2 linked regions of the Homo sapiens genome follow. The protein of the gene in region 2 interacts with the protein of the main gene of each other region in a pairwise test. Each region holds a gene or a part of one and is shown on either strand. Other genes may lie near its edges.

Region 1 (3,622 bases), on a different chromosome or scaffold from region 2:
AAAAAAAAAAAAAAAAAAAAAAACAACAACAAAAAAAAAAACCTCTAAATGATTACCAAAAAAGTAAGGATTATGAAAGATGGAAAAATAAGTTTTGGACTGGAATATCAATCAAACTTTACCTCACAGTATTTATGCATAGATAAATACTCAAAATACCCACACACACACACACACACACACGCGCGCACGCGCACACAGTCCTTACTTGCAACCTGGTGCATTTCCTCCATACATGCTCTGATGACTGATCGGTAGTTTTTACTCACTCGAACCAATCTACAAAAAATGAAATAACACACAAGATGAGCCTGGAACATCTTGTAGTGCCACAAAGGAAGGAAACACTCAAATAAATGCAGAAATTTGCTGAAAGAAAGAGGAGAGCCGTTGTGAAGGAGCTCCTAACCTTCTGAAGCTGGAACAACTTGGACAACAAAATAAAACGCCACAAAACAACCCATGGGCTAAAGTTAATATCCACAAACCCATACTGCCATTAATTGTTGCAGATGAAATCTACTGGTCAGACCTTGTCTCAAAAAAATAAAAAAGATACATAAATGTATTTACTGGCCAGGCCCGGTGGCTCAGGCGTGTAATCCCAGCACTTTGGGAGGTGAAAGTGGGCAGATCACCTGAGGTCAGGTGTTTGAGACCAGCCTGGCCAACCTGGTGAAACCCTGTCTCTACTAAAAATACAAAAATCCCAGCTACTCAGGAGGCTGAGGCAGGAGAATCTCTTGAACCCGGCAGGCGGAGGTTGCAGTGAGCCAAGATCATGCCATTGCACTCCAGCCTGGGCGACAGAGTGAGACTCCATCTGAAAAAAAAAAAAAAAGAATAAGACAGGGTCCCCTGCCAGCAAGGAATTACAGGACTTTTGACATGTTTTTTTCCTAGAAGTGACAATAGATTTCTCAAACTCACCAATATTCTCCACTAGAGTCCCTTAAATCCAATAATCAGGCCAGGTGCAGTGGCTCACTCCTATAATCCCAGCACTTTGGGACGCTGAGGTGGGCAGATCACTTGAGGTCAGGAGTTCAAGACCAGCCCAGCCAAAATGATGAAACCCCATCTCTACTAAAAATGCAAAAATTAGCCAGGCGTGGTGGCACGCACCTGTAATCCCAGCTACTCAGGAGGCTGAGGCAGGAGAATGGCTTCAACCCAGGAGGCAGAGGCTGCAGTGGGCCAAGATTGCGCCACTGCACTCCAGCCTGGGTGACAGAGTGAAACTCTGTCTCAAAAAAAAAAAAAAAAACAGGGCCAGGCACAGTGGCTCACGTCTGTAATCCCAGCACTTTGGGAGGCCGAAGCAGGTGGATCACGAGGTCACGAGATCGAGACCATCCTGGCTAACACGGTGAAACCCCGTCTCTACTAAAAATACAAAAAATTAGCCGGATGTGGTGGCAGGCGCCTGTAGTCCCAGCTACTCGGGAGGCTGAGGCAGGAGAATGGCGTGAATCCAGGAGGCAGAGCTTACAGTGAGCGGAGAACGCGTCACTGCACTCCAGCCTGGGTGACAGAGCGAAACTCTGCCTCGAAAAAAAACAGAAAAACAACCAATAATCACTCTTGCACACACTCACACAGAAGCTGACCTGAGTCTTGTCCAGAATGATTCATTTGTGAAAAGCTTATCAAAGAAGTAACATACCAACACTGCCCATTCCCTAGCCATCCATGTGAAGGGACGCTGACAAAAATCTAACACAGGAGTTCTTAAACTTCAGTGTGCTGGAGATTTTAAGATCCAACCACGGAGATTTTGATTTTGATGATCTGAGGTGGGTCCCAAAAGTCTACAATTAACAAGTACCACTCTGATAATGATGAAGTTATGAACTACAATTCAAGAAAATCCTAATCTATAAATAGTACGAGAGTTTTCTGGTCTGTTGTCAAATAACGTCTGAACCATAATTTTTTAGAGACAAAACTGTTAGGTTTATATTAATTTTCAAATCTCCCAACAATGTGACCTCATTCAACGACTCTCACATGCTTGTGTGGCCTAAATTTTCTTCTTTAGAGGCTAAGTAAAATATGAATATAAATAAAGCTTGTCAAGCCAGCCCATCAATAGCATTTGCATATTCCCGCTAAGTCTTCCCATCACTGCTAATGTACACTGTCCAGTACTCATGCCTCAACTAGAACCAGGAGTCTCTTATTTCTTTACGCAACCCATAAAACACACAAAAAGACAACAATGTACTTCATTTGGCTTTCCACAGTGTAGTGTGGGCTTCAACACCAAACAGCAACCAACTTACTGAGATTTTCTGGATTTTCCAGTCAACTCTTCGTCAATTCTCTGGAGGCCCAGAAAGATTCCATGGGATTCATTGAAGAGTTTTCTCAAGATTTGAGAGTAAACATCTACATCCTTACGGATGATATAGATAAAGGGGCAACTTGGCACCATCTCTGATTTTTCTGAAACCAAACAGAAAAAAAAAATTTAACATCTATTATGATCATCTCCAAAAGTGAATCTACTCTAAAAAAATTTTCTGTGGCCGGGCATGGTGGCTCTTGCCTATAATCCCAGCACTTTGGGAGGCCAAGGCAGGCAGATCACGAGGTCAGGAATTCGAGACCAGGCTGGCCAACATAGCAAAACCCTGTCTCTACTAAAAATACAAAAATTAGCTGGGCGTGGTGGCACATGCCTTCATTCCCAGCTACTCAGGAGACTGAGGCAGGAGAATTGCTTCAAACCGGGAGGCGGAGGTGGCAGTGAGCCGAGATCACACCACTGCATTCCAGCCTGGACAGAGCGAGACTCCGTCTCAAAAAAAAAAAAAAAAAAAGAAAGCAAATCAAATGTCAAGATTCCAGTTTTATCCTTCTACTGGAAGGAGACTGTATCACTGTATCAGGAAAAGAAAAAGATTCACATCCTATCCAATAGCTGATGGAACTCAGGAAAATCAAGCCAAGGACAAGCTATGTCACTCTCCAGCTCCATCTGTGCCTTGGATGCTACGGCTCAGCTCAGCCTACAGAACTATTATTCAGCTGAATCCATGCTGTGGACACAAAAGTGACGGCCAAGCATCTGCAAGGTTCACAATAAGGGAGCTACTGATAGGAATTTGGTCACTTTGGACAAAGAAAAAGGGATAAAAAGCTTGACATTTTAAATATGAAGAAAATTTTTCATGAAAACTATTAATTTTTTTCCGGGATTCAACATCTTCAAGATCTCAAAAATCAATGAAAATCTAAAATAGCTAACATTTCAAAAATAAAAATGCCAAAATGCAACAGGATCGCTTGAGGCCAGGAGTGCGAGACCAGCCTAGGCAACAAAATGAGACTCCCATCTCTACAAAGAAAAAAAAATTAGCTGGGCGTGGTGGCATGGTGACCTGTAGTCTCAGCTACTAGGAAGACTGAGGCAGAGGATCACTTGAGCCCAAGAGGTAGAGGCTGCAGTGAGCCATGATCACACTGTACTCCAGCCCAGGTGACACAACAAAACCCTGTTGTATCTTGAAAACAAAATAGAGAAAATTAAAATAGTACAAAATAAATTCAACTGTTTCAGTCCACAACTAGTAAAATCTGAGGTAATAAACAGAAAAACAACCAAATGTGCCAAGAT
Region 2 (3,622 bases):
GGGCAACAGAGTGGGACTCTGTCTCAAAAAAAAAAAAAAAAAAAAAAATTAAAAAAGCAAATTATAAGCAAGTCAACAAAATATATGTCTAATTGATGTTTATAAACTTACTCTGTCATGTTTTGTTAATCATCTCATGGGTAGTGTTCAGATTTTTACAAAGAGAATTGGTGAAATATTTTTATGAAATAATGTACAAAAATGAATTTAAAAAATCATACAAATATTTTTGTTTTACTTCTTGTTAAATGTAATCTTAAATTTAACTTTCAGTCTGAAGACCTGATTTTGTGTCAGTTGACGGTCCCAAACTTTTCAAACCAGACTGCCTATCTGTATAACGAAAGTGCTGTCTATGTGTGCTCCACAGGAACTGGGAAATTTTCTCTTCCCCAGGAGAAAATTGTCTTTAATGCACAAGGTACAGTAGCAGTTTTAGAAAGCATGATTGGTGAGCTCATTAGTCATTCTGAGTGCTTTTTTTCTCTTTCCCTGAATGTCACTTCAAGCATGCTGCTTTCAAATGTTTCTGAGACATTTCATACCACAACTACAGCAGCTGAAGCCATAACCCTACTAAGAAACCAAAAGGGTACTAGAATTTCCAAACTATTATATTTACAGACAAAGATAGTAACATTTGTTCCAGGAGAAGATGCCAAGAAGCAAAAAACTATTGCCAAGAGAAGTAATTGCTTATTCCTAGTTAGTAAAAGTGACATATTCTGAGTTGATGCTTTAACTTTTCCACACCCCTAGATAAGAAGAGCTTCAGGTGCTGGACTTATGCAGGGGGGCTGGTCAGGATTGAAGAAGAACCAAGCAGATACTTAGCTGAAGGGGTTGGGCAGAGGACAGAGTGCAGGTAGGCAACAGCATGGAACCCAGGTTTTCTAGTCCCAGCACAAGAACCTTGACAGAGGGTGGGTAGGATGTTACTAAGGTGCCAGGTAGGCTTAGACCTTTTTTTTTTTTTTTTTTTTCCAGTCCCCATTGACTGATGTGGTAAGTTAAAGTCAGAATTAAGAGAACTCCACAGGATTGAAAAAGCTCTTCTTCTGAGTTTTGCAGAAGGAATAATTTTCTTTTTTGGCTTACTAGACTGACTGCTGTCTGGCAAGGCTAGTTTTTATTGTCCTTAAAGCTGAAAGACACAGAGCCTGCTTCTTCAGATAGCAACCGGTTCTTAGCATTTGATTCTGGGATGTAAAGGATGAGTTCGAAGTAGGACTAATGTTGTAAAGGAAAAAATGTGCTTAATATATCATCAAGATGATTTTCTGCTTAGGGTGGTAGCTTTTACATAGCATTTTGTTGTTATTGTTAGATGTATTTGACTCTGTTTTCCTTTCTTTTAGGAGATAGTGTTTTAGGTGCTGGTGCCTGTGGTGGTGTTCCTATCATTTTTTCTAGAAACAGTGGACTGGTGTCTATTACTTCAAGGGAAAATGTGTCTATATTGGCAGAAGACTTGGAAGGGTCTTTAGCATCTTCAGTTGCTGGACCAAACAGTGAGGTAATGTGATTCGATAAGAATTTGAAGTTTTTATGTTATTTATTTTTTAGAGATAGTGTCTCACGCTGTCACCCAGGCTAGAGTGCAGTGGCACAGTCGTAGTTCATTGCAGCCCCAAACTCCTGGCCTCAAGCAATCCTCCTGCCTCAGACTTCCCAGTAGGTGCCTGGCTAATTTTTTGTTTTTTGGTTTGGTTTGGTTTTTGAGACAGAGTCTCACTCTGTTGCCCAGGCTAGAGTGCAGTGGCATAATCATAGCTCACTGCAGCCTCACCTCAACCTCCCGGGATCAAGCAGTCCTCCCCTCTTAACTTCCTAAATAGCTGGGACTACAGACATGCGCCATCTCACCTGGCTAATTTTTTATTTTTTGTAGAGACAGGATCTCCTTATGTTGCCTAGGCTGGTCTCAAACTCCTGGGCTCAAGAATCCTCCCGCCTCGGCCTCCCAAAGTGCTGGGATTACTGGCGTGGAGCCACCATGCCCAGCCTAATTTTTAGTTTTATCAGATTATTTTATACAAATGGTCTCAAAACTGAGACAGTTTTCAAAGACGTAATGATGCAGACATTAGTTCTTTTTATCTTCCTCATCCCTTCTGTCCTCTTTGCCTGGAGCAACTACATTTAAGCCTTTTAGTGATTTATTCTGGTATTTTTCTCCATATATCTAAGTAATGTACATATATTCCTGTCTCCTGATGCATCTGTTGATTTTCTACTACAGAAAATGAGGTTTTGGGTTACCTTATACTCCTTCCTCTGCCTTTATCATTCTAACATAAATTTTTTTCATTGTAATGACAATGTAAATATTGTTTATGGTTTGCTGATCCCAAATACTGATTACATGTCCTTTATTATAGAACTTTGTGTGACTCTTGGAGTGTATAATGACCTCGTTTTGTATTTTCTCACTTTCCTTTCATATGTGACTTAATCTTTTTACACACTCCAGGAGTTCTGTAGAGTGCCCCTCAATGTAGTTTTTCCCAAAGTCAAGTCTCCAGAAACCTTCCATCTGCACAGCTGTCATCCCAGAACTTCCCTTTTCTATTGTCCTCAAATCCTCAGGACCTGTCCTCTGCACCATGCATAGGTGGCCTCATCTCCTGTCAGCGGGGCCATTTCCCATTCCTTCTGCTTTCTATCTTCCTTTGTTGTAGTTAGTATCACAGATATTTCCAAGGAGCTTGTATTTCTGTTTCTTTTTATTCTGGGATGATTTTTTGAGAGGAATAGCCAGGTAAAAATTACCAATTTTATTCTGTTGTCTTGAAACCTGAAATATCCTATCCATAAGATTTTTATCATTCTTTTACAGAAGACTAAAAATAATTAATACTGTTTGGGGTAATTTCCATTTGAATAGTGTATGAAATATATAGACTACCTCTGTAATTCAAATTAAAGTGATTAAGTGTAGTTTTAAAGGAAAGAAACAATTTTTAACTTTTTTTTCTTTTCACAAAAGGGATTAATACCTTGCATTTTGTATTTTGTAATTATACAAAATTATACAAAGTACAAAATACCTTGTATTTTGTAATTAATACGATTACAAAAAAGGATTAATATCTATTTTGTAATTGTATGGTTATTATAATACTGTTATACATTCTGAAGCAATTTTATAGTATTCCATTTCTTTAAAATTTTTCTAAACCGTTGTTTAAATTTGTAATCAACCATTATGCTTAGGTAGTATACACTGTGATGAGTCGTGTAAGAGCAAACCTATAAAAAGATTCTGTTAATTATGATGAAATGTCCAAATTATTTTACTTACAACATAATCCCTGAATTACCTGTACCTTTTCTGTATGACTTTGGTTGATCATTTGATGCTATTTATAGTGTTTCAATAAGTATATGAATAATTGGTATGGACCAAGCTTGTCCAACCCACAACCCATGGGCTGCATGCGGCCCAGGATGGCTTTGAATGCAGCCCAACACAAATTCGTAAACTTGCTTGAAACATAAATTTTTTTTTTTTTAACTCATCAGCTATCATTAATGTTAGTGTATTTTATGTGTGGGCCAAGACGATTCTTCCAGTGTGGCCCAAGGAAGCCAAAAGATTGGACACCCCTGGTACAGACAA

The links. The genes of interacting proteins can lie anywhere in the genome.
Region 1: the proteins of NUP133 (region 2) and NUP85 interact in binary tests that used the Homo sapiens proteins (3 or more experiments, as listed by UniProt).

What each region holds. Positions count from the first base shown.
Region 1 is NC_000017.11:75,208,649-75,212,270, reverse strand, and holds part of NUP85 (nuclear pore complex protein Nup85), read right to left. Parts: intron 2,449-3,622; coding exon 2,286-2,448; intron 280-2,285; coding exon 209-279; intron 1-208. UniProt on the Homo sapiens protein: Essential component of the nuclear pore complex (NPC) that seems to be required for NPC assembly and maintenance. As part of the NPC Nup107-160 subcomplex plays a role in RNA export and in tethering NUP96/Nup98 and NUP153 to the nucleus.
Region 2 is NC_000001.11:229,484,265-229,487,886, reverse strand, and holds part of NUP133 (nuclear pore complex protein Nup133), read left to right. Parts: intron 1-273; coding exon 274-421; intron 422-1,358; coding exon 1,359-1,516; intron 1,517-3,622. UniProt on the Homo sapiens protein: Involved in poly(A)+ RNA transport. Involved in nephrogenesis.